Linked DNA regions of Homo sapiens. The protein of the gene in region 1 binds, or shares a complex with, the protein of each later gene. Each region holds a gene or a part of one and is shown on either strand. Other genes may lie near its edges.

The links.
Region 2: KCMF1 (region 1) and CALM1 share a complex: the UniProt entries of both Homo sapiens proteins name them as parts of the SIFI complex.

Annotation. Positions count from the first base shown.
Region 1 is NC_000002.12:84,967,325-84,974,170, reverse strand, and holds the start of KCMF1 (E3 ubiquitin-protein ligase KCMF1), read right to left. Parts: upstream 3,011-6,846; 5' UTR 2,720-3,010; coding exon 2,704-2,719; intron 2,321-2,703; exon of another isoform or gene 1,971-2,320; coding exon of another isoform or gene 1,931-1,970; intron 1-1,930. UniProt on the Homo sapiens protein: E3 ubiquitin-protein ligase which accepts ubiquitin from an E2 ubiquitin-conjugating enzyme and then transfers it to targeted substrates, promoting their degradation by the proteasome.
Region 2 is NC_000014.9:90,392,559-90,400,028, forward strand, and holds the start of CALM1 (calmodulin-1), read left to right. Parts: upstream 1-4,470; 5' UTR 4,471-4,672; coding exon 4,673-4,675; intron 4,676-5,608; exon of another isoform or gene 5,609-6,523; coding exon of another isoform or gene 6,524-6,529; intron 6,530-7,470. UniProt on the Homo sapiens protein: Calmodulin acts as part of a calcium signal transduction pathway by mediating the control of a large number of enzymes, ion channels, aquaporins and other proteins through calcium-binding. Calcium-binding is required for the activation of calmodulin.

The DNA of each region.
Region 1 (6,846 bases):
GATGACTGAGAGTGCAAAAATTACACCACTAAAGAAACACGGAGGCTGGGCGTGGTGGCTCACGCCTGTAATCCCAGCACTTTGGGAGGCCAAGGCGGGTGGATCACCTGAGGTCAGGAGTTCAAGACCAGCCTGACCAACATGATGAAACCCGATCTCTACTAAAAATACAAAAATTGGATGGGTGTGGTGGCAGGCGCCTGTAATCCCAGCTACTTGGGAGGCTGAGGCAGGAGAACTGCTTGAATCTGGGAGGTGGAAGTTGCAGTGAGCCGAGATCACGCCACTGCACTCCAACCTGGTGACAGAGTGAGACTCCAGCTAAAAAAAAAAAAAAAAAAAAAAGAAAGAAATAAAGAAAAAGAAAGAAAGAAAGAAATGCTGAAAGAAATGGGATTCTTTGGCCCAAAAAAGGCAAAGGTAAGAAAAGAACTAATAGCAAGGGTGCCAAACACTGTATTTACTGATAGGTCAAAGTCTTACTGATGACAATAATGACAGTCTGAACTAATATTCCACAAAATATGTATCTAATGAGTTAAATGTGATTCGTGAGACTGCTATTCCTGTCTTAGGCCATAAACTAGACCCTTGAAAGAGAATCACTTGTCGAATATTGTACTATAAGTCTTCAACAGATGTATTTAGGTATGTTCCTTTTTCATTAGGTATGTTCTATTTACTGACATTAACATAAGTTACTAGGAAAGGTGTGCTACTAGTGTGCTGAGGTTCAGCAATATTCAAGTAACTAAAAGGTAATATAAGTTTCATAACCACACACCTTTGCACAGCACCAAATGGGGGGAAATGGGCTTAAATTACAGAATATATGTTACATTCAAGAATGTTCCAAATATGAGATTTTAATTACTCTAACAGAGCACTGGGGGTGAAGGAATTTTCTTCCCAGGACACTTCAATTAGAATGCTCGTCTGGAACTATCTGTATGCTTTCTTAGACCAAGGAGAATGGGTCTGAAACACTCTTCCATGGCTGTGATTCTCTAACTAACCCTCCCAGTTTTCAAGAGTAAGAGAGCTTGCAGCCATTGCTCACTTTTGTTTTGTCTTGAAGGTGGTCAATGTACACAGGACTACAGTTTAAGATAAACTTTAATATCCCAAATTGAAAACTGATTATAACTTTAATTACGAGTTCTTAAAATTACAGAGATAAGGATACATTTCGATTAAGCAGACGAAGTGGGGAAAAGAGGCATAGCTTCCTACTTCTGTGTCCCTTTCAATGAGGCTAGGTACCTCATTATTTCAAAATGCCCAACACTTGAACACTGTAAGTACTCAACAAATGCTTTGCGAAGAAAATATAGTATATTTCATATTAGTTTTGTAACTTTTAAAATACAGAATCGTTGAACACAGAATGTTGAGTCAATTTCAACGTCGCAATTAGTAATGCGAATTTTGAAACTTGTTCTAAATACAATTTTAATCAATCTGAGTTTTTCAGCCTTGAAATTCTAAGGTCCGTATTTCCCAAAGAATATCCTTCCCATAGTGCTAAGCACACACTAAACTGACTCACTAAACTTTCTCCACTCCTACATCACCTATACAGGATTTTAAAATCCGGAGTACACAAACTTTCAAGCCACTTCTACAATCTTGTATTAACCTTAGCAGGACAAACTTTTCGCCAAGACTCTTAACACTTTTTATCCAAAAACCTGTAGTAGTGAAACAAAGAAAACACAACCCCCTCCTCCTTTTCTAAACCATATGGCAATAAATTAAAGTTAACTTATTTCTTACCAGCTCAAAGCCTATACATCGACCCTAAACATTTGTCTCTTTGTGCCCTGGGACTGGGCTTAGAGCTGTCTGCTTATTTGCAACTGTACTCCAATCGTGTTTTAAAATGGCAAAACAAGGTCCAAAACGACCCCCGACCATGAACAGACCTCACCATCGTCATTTTCCAAAACCTGGTCTGGTAGGCAGCACATGCCGGCGAGGGCACCAGGGCCGCGGGGAGCGAGCCCTGCTCCGCCTGGGTGACTGAGCAGGGAGTTTGCTTGCTGCGGCGGGGTCGGATCCACCCCGGGAACTTGGTTACCCGAGCCCAGGGACGCGCCGAGGCCTAGCCGCGAGGCCGGGGCGGGCTCCAGGCGGCGAGGGCTTCCCGTCCCTTGGCCGCAGAGCCTTCCCGCCAGCCCCGCGGTCGCCCGCAGGCGGGGACACTCGCCGTCGTCTCCCGGCGACCGGACGCGCCTGCCGGGTCCCGGGCCGGCTCTTTTGCCTCCTGCTGCCGCCCGCGGCCCGGCTCTGCGACCACACCGGGCTCTTCCGGGGCGGCGGGAGCGCTAGGCCGCGCTGGGGCCCGCGGCTCCTGAACCGGCCGGGCGGGCCTTGGCGTCCGGTATCAGTCCCGAAGGCCGAGCTCCCGCCGGTAACGGGCCCCGCCGCCTCCCCTCCCCCTCCGCCCCATGACAGTGCAAACCCTCCGGCCGCCCGGGCCGCCCCGCCTCCAGCACCAGGCCCAGCTAAGGGCCGCGGCCGTGGCGGCAGCGGCGCCGCGGCTCTCCGCCCTCGCTCGCTCGCTCCCGGGTCCAGCGCCTCGGGCCCGGCTCGGGCTCGGCCAAAGTCTCCGCCGCTTCCCGGCCGCCCTCCGCCGCGCCCGGCCCGGGCGGGGTAGGCCGAGGCCCGGGAGGTGCGGGTGGGGGCGGGGGCTCCTCTCACCTTCATGTCGGGACATCCTAGTTCAGACGGTGGCGGCGCGGCCCCTCCCGGGCTCCGGCTGCAGTGTCCCCCGCGGGGTCCCGGCGCTGCCCGCGCCGGCCGGCCGACTCCCACTCGACTCCCGGGCTCGGCCGCGGGGGCGGGGTGGGCAGGGGAGCGCTCCCGCGGCGGCGGCGGCGGCGGCGGCGGGGAGGCGGCGCGGGGCGGGAATGGGGCCGGGCCTGGTCGGGGCTGAGCTCCTCCAGGAGGCGGGTCCGACGCCGCAGCTCCGCCGGCGCCCGCCGTGACTCCGGTCACTCTCGGGCCTGCCGGCTCCCGGCAGCGGCGCGGCGCTCCGCAAATCCCGCTCCTCCCCTCCCCCGGCCCACCCCCCGCCCCTCTCCCCCGGCTCCCGGCCGCCGCCTCCTCCTCCTCCTCTTCCTCCTCCTCCGCCTCCTTCCGCCGCCCGCACGCCAGCCCCGCCTCTCGCTGCCCTCGCCGGGCCCAGCCGCCCGGAGGCCCCGCGGCCGGCGGTCGCGACGGGGGCGACGCGGCGACGGCGGCTCGGGGCGCGGCGCTTGCCCGCGCTAGCCAGCAGGCCGCGATCGGGCGCCCGTGCCCAGCCTCGGCCTGGCCGCCGCCGCCGCCGCCGCGCCGCGCGTAGGGAGGAAGAGGAAATGCCCGGCGCCGGCTCCCGCTGCTCACCGGCGCGGCCCGAGGGGCGCCCGCCCGCCACGCCGCCCCTAGCCCCGCCTGGGGCGGGCCTAGGCCGGGCTATAGGGGCCAGGGCCTTGGGCTGCGCCGGCCGCGGGAGGTGGGTGCTTCTCGGCGGCGAGCTGCGACTCGGAGAGACTCCTGTCCGCAGGTGCATGGCTTCCGGGCGGGCCTCGGGCAGCGAGCTCCAGCCCCACTGAGAGGCCGCGGACCGCCTGGGGACTTGTGTTTGTGTGTATTTTAAGCCAACAGCCCAGAAAGGGAAGGCGACTGGCCCCCGGTCTTCGCCAGTGTTTCCCGGCCGGGTTACTGGTGGTCAGGAGGGAAGCCAGGAGGCTGCCGGGCTCCGAGGCCGATTCCTTGCGAACCATCTCCGTTAAAGACTCCGCGCCGGGCAGCCCGGGAGTCCGGCGGTACCCGCGCAAACTTTGTCCCAGCGCCTTGGCTCACCGTGAATGCCCTGCCTTGAAAATTTGGAGTTTTTTGTTTCCTGAAAGTGGTCTGCTTTTCCGATTTTATCTGTGTTTTCCATTTTTACCTTCTTATTGTCAATTTGTTTTCAGGCATTATTAATTCAACAAATCTTTGTACTGCCCCTTACCACGTGTCGATGGTTCCGTGGTTTGGTGGAAATAGATCGCGCTTTGAAGTCAAGACGGATCGGCCATGGAATTTTGGCTCTGAGATCCTCTGTGTAACCGTGGATGAGCTACAAGGCCTGCTGAGCCTCCATTTGTCTGGTTTTTGTGGTTGTTTTAATTTATCTTTTTCCATTTGAAGTTGTGGGTTTTGCATAAAATTGAACTGTTACCAGGCTAAGTCAACTGAAATTGGAATCTGGGGTACTGCTTGCTTTGAGGTTACTCTTATACTGTCCACCATTTGCTGGCTGTGTGATCTCTAAACCTCTCTGTGCCCTGACTTTTCTATCTTTAAAATGGACGTAACAACAGAGGTTTAATAATAAGAGGTTTGGAGGTTAAGTGCTAAAATGCATATAAAATACCTAGCACAGGACACAGTAAAAAGATTGTTACCGTATTTCATTGAATCTGGTTTTAAGACACTTCCTGATTTCAAAGAAACTAAAAGCTCATCTTGAAGTCCAGGAAGTAGGTTTTGGGTCACTCAGAACTCCCAAGGGACTGTATTTGGTAGTAACTAGTGATAAACAAACTGGAGTTTAAATGAGGACTTTGTCACCAGAGATATTTTTATTGCCTGTATGGAGCTCCTGCACAAATTTATTCCATTTCTCTTGTAGAAAGAGATCCAACCTGGCCGTAAATGGGGTGTGGTGGAGTAGAAAGAAGGGTATTAAGTAAAGCTCTGTGTCGATGCCTTTCTGAGCATTTTACGGTGTTGGCATATGTGATCCTGGGTATCAGGAGCCTCAATTTCTTGGGCTGTAAAAATGGGGAGAACAACGCTGATCCCATTGTCTCCTGATGGGTAAGTGATGTCTATAAATAAATTGTATAGAGATTAAGGCATTATCAGTGCTGTAGTCTGATAAAATGGTGGAGCAGATAGGAAAGCCTACAACAGTACTGAACTGCAGGAGGGACTAAGAGTAAATATAGAGATTTCATTTGCTTGGTTTTGCAGAGGGTTAGCTAACTAAACAGATAACTTTGTTTTCGACAGTTACTTCATTTTTTTCAGTCAGGCAAGAGTAAGGAGAGAGTAACTAAACCATTTTTTTTCCTCTTTAAATAAGAGTAAGCAGAAATATTATGGTTATTTGGGGTTTTCATGACCTTCATTCACTTAGCGGTCAGGCTGTTCAATTTAAAACAACCTTTTGCTTGCTGCCCTGCCATATGGGAAATTTCATTTCCAAAAAAAGGATTAATTTCCAGCCTGGGCGAAACCCTATCTCTACGGAAAATATAAAAATTAGCGGCCAGGAGCAGTGGCTCATACCTGTAATCCCAGCACTTTGGGAGGCCGAGGCAGGTGGATCACGAGGTCAGGAGTTCAAGATCAGCCTGGCCAAGATGGTGAAACCCCATCTCTACTAAAAATACAAAAATTAGCCTGATGTGGTGGCACGCGCCTGTAATCCCAGCTACTTGGGAGGCTGAGGCAGAGAACTGCTTGAACCTGGGAGCATTCCAGCCTGGATGACAGAGTGAGACTCCGTCTCAAAAAAAAAAAAAAAATTAGCTGGGCGTGGTGGCATCCGCCTTTGGTCCCAAATACTCAGGAGGCTGAGGTGGGAGGATTGCTTGAGCCCAGGAGGTCGAGTCTGCAGTGAGCCGTGATTGTACCACCACATCCTAGTCTGAGTGACAGTGTGACACTCTGTCTCAAAAAAGAAAAGAAGATCAAGAAGGATTAATTTAAATCCTTATACCAAATTGTCTACCAAATGATTTTTGTTCCACTCCAGAAATGTTTTCCTCCAGTCCCTTCCTCTCTCTGCACCCTCCTGAGTTCTCCTTTCTTCTGTGGACAACTGTAACTAATGCGTGTTTTTGCTAGGCTGACCCTTCTTTCATACTATGGCCCAATTATGTTTTTTCAAATAAGCTAATGGATGTAAGCACTGGTGAAATCTGAATAAGGTCTGTAGTCTACTTGATAGTATTGTACCAATGTCAGTTTCCTGGCTTTTGATATTTTTCCATAGCTTTGTAAGATGTTCCCATTTGAGAAAGTGTACCTGGGCCCTCTTTGCAACTACCTATGGGTAAATGATTATTTCAAAGTAAAAAATTAAAGTATAGGGACAGAAATTAGATCAATGGTTACTGGCAACTGGAGCTGGGGAAGGGTGGACTGATCACACTTTTTGAGATGATGAGAATATTCTCTAACTTGATTGTGGTATTTACATTACTGGATGACTCTGTGAATCTGTCAAAACTCATAGAACTATACACCTAAAAGGGTGGTTTTTTTTTTTTTTTTTTTTTTTAGATGAAGTCTCGCTCTTGTCCCCCAGGCTGGAGTGCAATGGTGTGATCTCGGCTCATTGCAACCTCCGCCTCCCGGATTCAAGCGATTCTCCTGCCTCAGCCTCCCAAGTAGCTGGGATTACAGGTGCATACCACCACGCCCGGCTAATTTTTTGTATTTTAAGTAGAGGCGGGGTTTCACCATGTTGGCCAGGCTGGTCTCGAACTCCTGACCTCAAGTGATCTACCCGCCTCGGCCACCCAAAGTGCTGGGATTACAGGCGTGAGCCTCCGCACCCAGCCAAAGGGTGGTTTTTACTTCTATATAAATTATACTTCAGTAAACCTGAATTAAGATAAGGAAAGCAAGCTCTTGGCCGGGTGCAGTGGCTCACGCCTGTAACCCCAGCACTTTGGGAGGCGGAGATGGGCGGATCACGAGGTCAAGAGATCGAGAGCATCCTGGCTAAATGGTGAAACCCTGTCTCTACTAAAAATACAAAAAAATTAGCCAGGCGTGGTGGTGGGCATCTGTAGTCCCAGCTAC
Region 2 (7,470 bases), on another chromosome or scaffold:
CTGACTCTCAAACCAACCAACCAACCAACCATATGTGTCTCTACCTCTCTCTCACACACACAATTGGATGTTTGACAGTGAGCAAGCCTCTTGACCTCTCTAGACCTCAGAGGCAAAATGAGAAGTGTCCTCCAGCTAGAAAGCATCACAAATTAAATGTTTTGCTTTAGGTTTTCTTCCCCAAACACTCCATATTCCTTATGTAAAAATAGAGCCATTACTACATTCCTATGATCGTATTTTAAATTATTGGGTAAGAAGTATCTCTTTATAAACCAAATTTTCATCTTAATCTTTGCCACTTCTGCCTCCTACCCCAAATTAAAATAAAAATAAATTCTACTACATTGCAGGAGATAGTTATAATGTAATGCTTAAGTGCTTGGGCTCTCAGCTAGATTTTTGGGTTCCACTTAAATTAGGCAAGTCACTGACTCGTTCAGTGCCTCAGTTCCTTTGTAAGAATAATGATACCTGTTTCACAGGATGGGTAGGAGGATGAAATAATACATTTAGCACAAGGCCTGGCCATAGTCAATGCTGAGTAATTATTTTTTATTTTTATTTTTTGAGACAGAGTCTTGTACTGTTGCCCAGGCTGGAGTGCAGTGGTGCGATCTCTGCTGACTGCAACATCTGCCTCCCAGGTTCAAGCGATTCTCCTGCCTTAGTCTTCTGAATAGCTGGGATTACAGGTGCCTGCCACCACGCCCAGCTTATTTTTTGTATTTTTAGTAGAGACAGGGTTTCACTATGTTGGCCAGGCTGGTCTTGAACTCCTGACCTCATGATCCACATGCCTCAGCCTCCCAAGGTGCTGGGATTACAGGTGTCAGCCACCATGCCGAGCAAGTAATTGTTATTTTTAAACTATTTCCATTTCTCCATTTGCATTCTCCATTTCTCCATCTTCAATATATGTATATGTGTGTATACATATATATGACAGAGGTTATATATGTATATGTTATAATCATATAACCTCAGACACAGGGTTTCACAGCTAGAAGGAATTTCTACATCAAGTACAAAACTCTTGTTACATCTGTGTCCTTTCTGTCAGATTCAGAGGGTTAGAGTGATTTGGTTAGTGACGGAAATGATACTTAAACATGAGATTCCTGGCTTGAGGCTGCATCGTTTTTACTTTTCTTCCATTTACTTTTATCTTATTTAAATAACTTCCTATAGAACAATTTCCTTTAAATATGAAATGTTCCATAGGTTTTTGGTTCTCAGTAAATTATGATATTACAATAATGCGGTTTATTCTCCTGATTGCTGATCTCTTCATAAATTAGGACGTGTATTCACTTAAAGCAGTCTATTTGATAATGAAAACCCAGTGATTTCTAAATAGGCAGTCAGAAGAATCTGCTTTATGAAACAGACAAACCCCTAACATTGGGCCTTTAAAATGTTCGGATATCAAGACCACGAATATATTATCTAAATTAGAGCCCCTGAGCAAGGACTCAAGCTCTATTTTATGCCCCATCCCTGACTCACAGTAAGATCCTGGGCAAGTCACTTGACCTTCTTATATTTCAGAGTGTCAAACTGTGAAAAGCATGTCCATAAAACTGTGCAAGCATGACCTCATTATAAACCCGATGAACTTGAAAGCAAAGATGTGCTTTGATACATTAAAGAATTACCAAAATAGAACTCTAGTTTGTAAAATATGAAGAATCAGGAAAATAAATTTTACTATACTAAGTAAAAGGATTCTGAAATGTACAGTTTTTAGCAAGTAAAGTCATAAAAAGTTTCAAAATGTTATATTTAGGTGAAATAAGGTTAATGACAGAGGAAAAATATTATTTTAGAGAATGCTTGGCTTTCAAAACCATAGATTGTAGCAACTTAACCAAAATAATCACAAGGAATGGAAGACTATCAGAAACGAGTAGATCCTTAATAATTAAACACATTTCTAGGCCATTATTTCCCCCTACTTATACAATGCATATCATGTTTTAAAATGTATTTCACTGGCTGGGAGCGGTGGCTCACACCTGTAATCCCAGCACTTTGGGAGGCCGAGGCAGGTGGATCACTTGAAGTCAGGAGTTCGAGACCAGCCTGGCCAACATGGTGAAACCCCATCTCTACTAAAAATACAAAAATTAGCCAGGCGTGGTGGCAGGCACCTGTACCTGTAATCCCAGCTACTCAGGGGGCTGAGGCAGGAGAATCGCTTGAACCCACAAGGCGAAGGTTGCAGTGAGCTGAGATTGCACCACTGCACTCCAGCCTGGGCAACAGAGTGAGGCTCTGTCTCAAAAAAAAAAGAAAAAATGTATTTCACTAACTACTATATGAAAAGCCCCAGAGAAAGAATACCAATACCCTTAGGAAAGAAGCAGTTTTAGTATTATTATTATTATTGGATGGAGTCTCGCTCTGTCACCAGGCTGGAATGCGATGGCGCTATCTTGGCTCACTGCAACCTCCGATGCCCTGGTTCAAGGGATTCTCCTGCCTCAGCCTACTGAAAGTAGCTGAGATTACAGGCACGCGCCACCACACCCAGCTAATTTTTGTATTTTTAGTAGAGACAAGGTTTCACTATGTTGGCCAGGATGGTCTCGATCTCCTGACCTTGTGATCCGCCTGCTTCGGCCTCCCCAAGTGCTGGGATTACAGGTGTGAGCCACCGCGCCCGGCCAAGATGCAGTTTTAATAAGGAGTTTGGCCATTTAGGCTTGTAACTGACTGGATTATTGCATATTCTTTAAAATTAATTTGTATTAGTCCCTTTTCTTCTATTTCCTTATCTCCAACTCTCGCATTAGTATGCACGCTTTATTCCTACTCAGGTTTTCCCCTATGAGCCCAGGAGTATTATTATTATTTTTTTGCAGGGATTAGGATCAGGTTTGTGAAGTGAATAGTGTCTTTCTAATCTGCAGAGGGAAGGCAGCATCCCCTGGCTTGCTGCTGCAGCCTCTCTTTAAATTAAACAGCAGGTTCACTCTTTCTGCGGCATTCCAGAAGGAACATCAGTAGGAACAGCTCCACAGATGCTGACGTCTTGTCTAAGGTTATCCCAAGAAGTCCTGTGGCATTTGCAATGTGCCTGTACATTTTTCCTTTTTTAAAAAACATATTCCTGCAGACTTTGTTGAAAGCAGAAACAAACACAAGCAAGCAAAGCCCTTTCTAGCACAGCATGTTAATCACACACTTTGCCATATTCTGTGAAACAGTAAGCAAATGATAACCTCCAACTGTTGCCCGGGCCCTGTAAAACAGAAGATCAAATTCTGTGTTCTGCCTTGGCAAGAAAAGAAACTGCAGCATTTTGTCTAGATTTTTACAAGTCCTGGGGTTCACATTACTGGCTGAAATTGTTCTTTCTCTACTTTACAGAAAAATGGAAAACACTAGTAAACTTAAAGATTTAAATATTATTTTAAAAGGAATATAATAAAAAATGGAAAACACTAGTATATTTAAAGATTTAAATAGTCTTTTAAAAGGAATATAATCAAAACTGTAGTTTAAAATACAATCTAGCTCCATAAGAGAGGCAATTGGCTGTGTGTTCCACTTGTAATGCAGAGGATTTGAAGCATCTATTTTTTCCCTTGTTTCTATGGATTTATGAATAAAGACTCTGACCCTTCTCAGGATCAGGAAAATTACGAAAAATTTAAAGCCTGGGTTTAAGGTCTGTAGAAGCTGCACAGGTACACTAATTTTAGTAAGACGGGCGCCAGGAAAAAGAACAAAATAGTAGGGGAGAAATATTCAGGCATCCTAAAAAATATTCAGTGGAAACGTAAAAACATTAAAGACTGATTAAACATCGCAGCATGACACAGATTTAGCAACTGAGCATAAATAATTTGACTCGGATACTGCTCCAAAATCCGAAGAGGACCAATTTCTTCCAGGAGGACAACTACCTCGTCCTCTGCAGACCCCTCTCCTCGGCAGCTGAAGGAGTGTGGCCAATCTGCCTCCACCTCCCCGCGGACCCCCTACTCTCAGGACCTCCTGCAGCACCCCAAACTGGAAGTGGCCGCTGCAGACCCAAGGACGAGGGGCACGCGGGAGCCGGCAGCCCTAGTGGAGCGGTTGGAGATGTTGAGGTGGGAGGGTCACCCAGGTGGGGTGAGGCTGGGGTAGGTAGCGGAGTGAACGGCTTCCGAAGCTCTGGGCCGCCCCCAGGTTGGACTAAGCAGGCGCTCTGTCTTCGCCCCCGCCCAGGGTGGGCGTCTCCTGAGGACTCCCCGCCACACCTGACCCGAGACCGCGCGCCCAGCCTAGAACGCTTCCCCGACCCAGCGTAGGGCCGCCGCGACTGGCGCGCAGGGGGCGGCGGGAGGCCTGGCGAACCCGGGGGCGGGACCAGGCGGGCAAGGCCCGGCTGCCGCAGCGCCGCTCTGCGCGAGGCGGCTCCGCCGCGGCGGAGGGATACGGCGCACCATATATATATCGCGGGGCGCAGACTCGCGCTCCGGCAGTGGTGCTGGGAGTGTCGTGGACGCCGTGCCGTTACTCGTAGTCAGGCGGCGGCGCAGGCGGCGGCGGCGGCATAGCGCACAGCGCGCCTTAGCAGCAGCAGCAGCAGCAGCGGCATCGGAGGTACCCCCGCCGTCGCAGCCCCCGCGCTGGTGCAGCCACCCTCGCTCCCTCTGCTCTTCCTCCCTTCGCTCGCACCATGGTAGGTCGGGAGTGGCAAATGCCGGCGTAGCAGCTGCCCGAGATTTCTTCCCAGATTTCTAGTTGTTTTGTTTGTTTTTTGTTTGTTTTTGGTTCTTGGAGGTTTTTCTTTTCTGAGTGTTACGCAGCAGCTGCGCTTAAAGGAGGTTGCATTTTGGATTTGCATCTCGGCGACCTCTGCCAGGGAGCTTCATTTATTGGTTCCCCTTGGAGCTGGACTTGGTCGTAGGCCGTCCACGGGCAGGGGCTCCGGCCGCAACTGCAGCGGGGGTTTCTGCATCCAATCCCCCTGCCCCCCGCCCAGCCCCGCACCCACTGCATCCACTAGCGCCGCACCCGGGCTGCCTGCAGCGCAGCGTTTCGGCCTGGGAGCCGGGCGGGGCCGGGCACTAGACCCCCCCCCCCGGCCCGCCCCTCCCCACCCCGCTTCTCCGCCGGCGCGAAGGTGGCAGGTCGGGCGGGCAGTGGAGAATGAATGGGCTGGAGCTGGCCGGTGGCGCACATTGTTCCGGCCGGGTGTTGAGGGGCGCAGTCAGCGCCCGCCACCTCCCCACTTTGGCCGGCCCTGCTGGGCGCCCTCCCTCGGTCGCTCTCCCCTCCTTCTTCCCGGGGGGCGCGGCGCGGGCGTGGGCTGGGAAGGAAGGAGCCGGGGAAGGGTGGGGTTGGGGGCAGGAAGGCGAGGGGTTGGGGGCGGAGAGGGCGGAAGCGGCGGCCGGGCCGCCCTGCGCCCGGGCGGGGCCCTGCGGTGTGGCCGTGGCTTGTTCCTGCCGCTTTCGCACCCTGCGGCCCCCCACCCAGTGCAGCAGTGCGGGCGGGCGTGAGCCTCGGTGCACCAGGAGGCACTTCCCGCGGGAGGCGCTGGGCTCGCGCTAATTGGGGCGGGGGGGGGGGGCGGCGGGGGAGGAGGGAACTGGCGCGCGGCTTGGTTTCCATTAGAGACGCAAAGTTTCTGCTCCGGGAGGAGGCGGCGGCGCCGCGGGCTCGTCGCCTGGGGGAGCAGAAGCGGGTGGGAGGTGCGGGTGGCCTTGGCCTCAGCCCTGGTGCGCGGGGGCCGGGGGTGGTGACCCTCCTGGCCGAGGAGGGGCGGCGTCCAGACGCCCGCTCGGGGGCCGCCTTCCCCCCCACGCCTGCCCCCGGGCACGCGCCCTGCCCGGTCCCTCGCCCCGCGCCACTTCCAGTCCGCAGAGAGATGCCCTCCACGTTTCTGCTTTCTCTGCAGCCTCTAGATTGCCAGATGCGACTGTGCGCCTCGCTGGGTGTGTTTTCCACAGCCCCTTCCTCCTCGGCGTGCAGGGCTGACATCACCGACTGCGTTTCTGGTTTGGCGGGTGGGGAGATGGTTCCCCGCAGGGTTCTGGTACACCTTTGCCCCCAGGGCTAGCGCCATTTGGGGGAGGAGGTTTTCGTTGTCGAGAAAGTTGGATGCTCCTGGTAACCCCTCTAACAAGAGAGTTCTGTAGCGAGGTGGGACTGTTCTCCCCATAAGGTGACAGTTTCTCTTGCGAGGTGTGGCAGCGCTTCCTGTTGTACAAGACAGATGTTGCCTTGGCGTTACGTAAATCATCGTGTCTCCGTCATTTAAAGAAAGCCAATTTTTAGTGATTGAGGTAGAAAGAAAGATCCGTTTATAATTTGTAAAAACAAATTTTCACCCAGAATCAATATATTGGAACACCATTCCTACTGTTAAAGTTTTCACTTAAGAGTATAAACTTCATCAGCTTTCTATTAGGACTTATTTTGTAATTGGCTTCTTAGGCATCCTTCTTTAAAAGAGAAATCCACGTTAGCTCTCCTTGAGGTCTCGAGTTCCCTCGGCTGGAGGCACAGGTTCAGTGGAGACCAAATAATGCAGGTGAATTACCTTCGTGGCCATTACTGCCTCCAACGAAGTGTGTTTATTAAGAACAGTTCTTATGTCATTCTTAAGGTAGGTAGGGTTAATACTCTCCAGCAAATTTAGTAGATACTCTTTGCCAGAAAAGAGAGGAGTATATATAGTTTGATAATTATTGTGTAGTTTTCTGTGTACTTAATTTTTGCAGTTTTGTAACACTTCATTTGTAAGATGGTACCATTTTTTCCTGGCTTCTGAATCATAGGATAGTTTGACCCAGGGCATTAGCCATTGTAATGGTAGGCTTTTAACAAATAACTGCCTAATTTAAAGGATTGGAAAGCATTTGTTACATGGAAATGAAGTTGGTGGCGTACCCAGTTGCTGTATCTTTATTTTTTCTACTTAATTATTTCTCATAAAATGGATATAAAAGCCTGTTAATCCAACCCAATGCCATTATGTAACGCCAGTTTGGAGATTTCGAGGGCCTGGAGCAGTGCGCAAGGTGCGCTGAAAGCCTGCCCCTGGATGAGATCCTTATCCTGGCTGTGATGGCAGTGGCAGTGGGCTGGGTCCCTTGTTGAGTGGAAAGGGGGACTGCGGTGTCCATGGTGCAGTAGGTGGCGCTCTTCTGTCTTAGAGCCTGCCGCCACTGCAGCTGGTGCCAAGGGGCCTTCTGCCACTAGAGGTGCCATTTTTCACATGATGAACTTAGCCTAGTTAGATCGCAGAGCAAGCTGTAAGCCATGGGCCCAGAAAAGAAAACTTGAAGTGAGCAGATGTTGTCACTTCCTTGTAATCCTTTGTTAAAATAGCATAAGGAGTTTTCTTTATTCTATTTACTTTCATTAAATGACCGTGCTACAGGTTTCAAAGGATTTTAAGATTGATTTTTGAAAGATCACAATATTAAAAGTATAACTGGAAAACCTATGTTGAAATCAACCAAACATGTC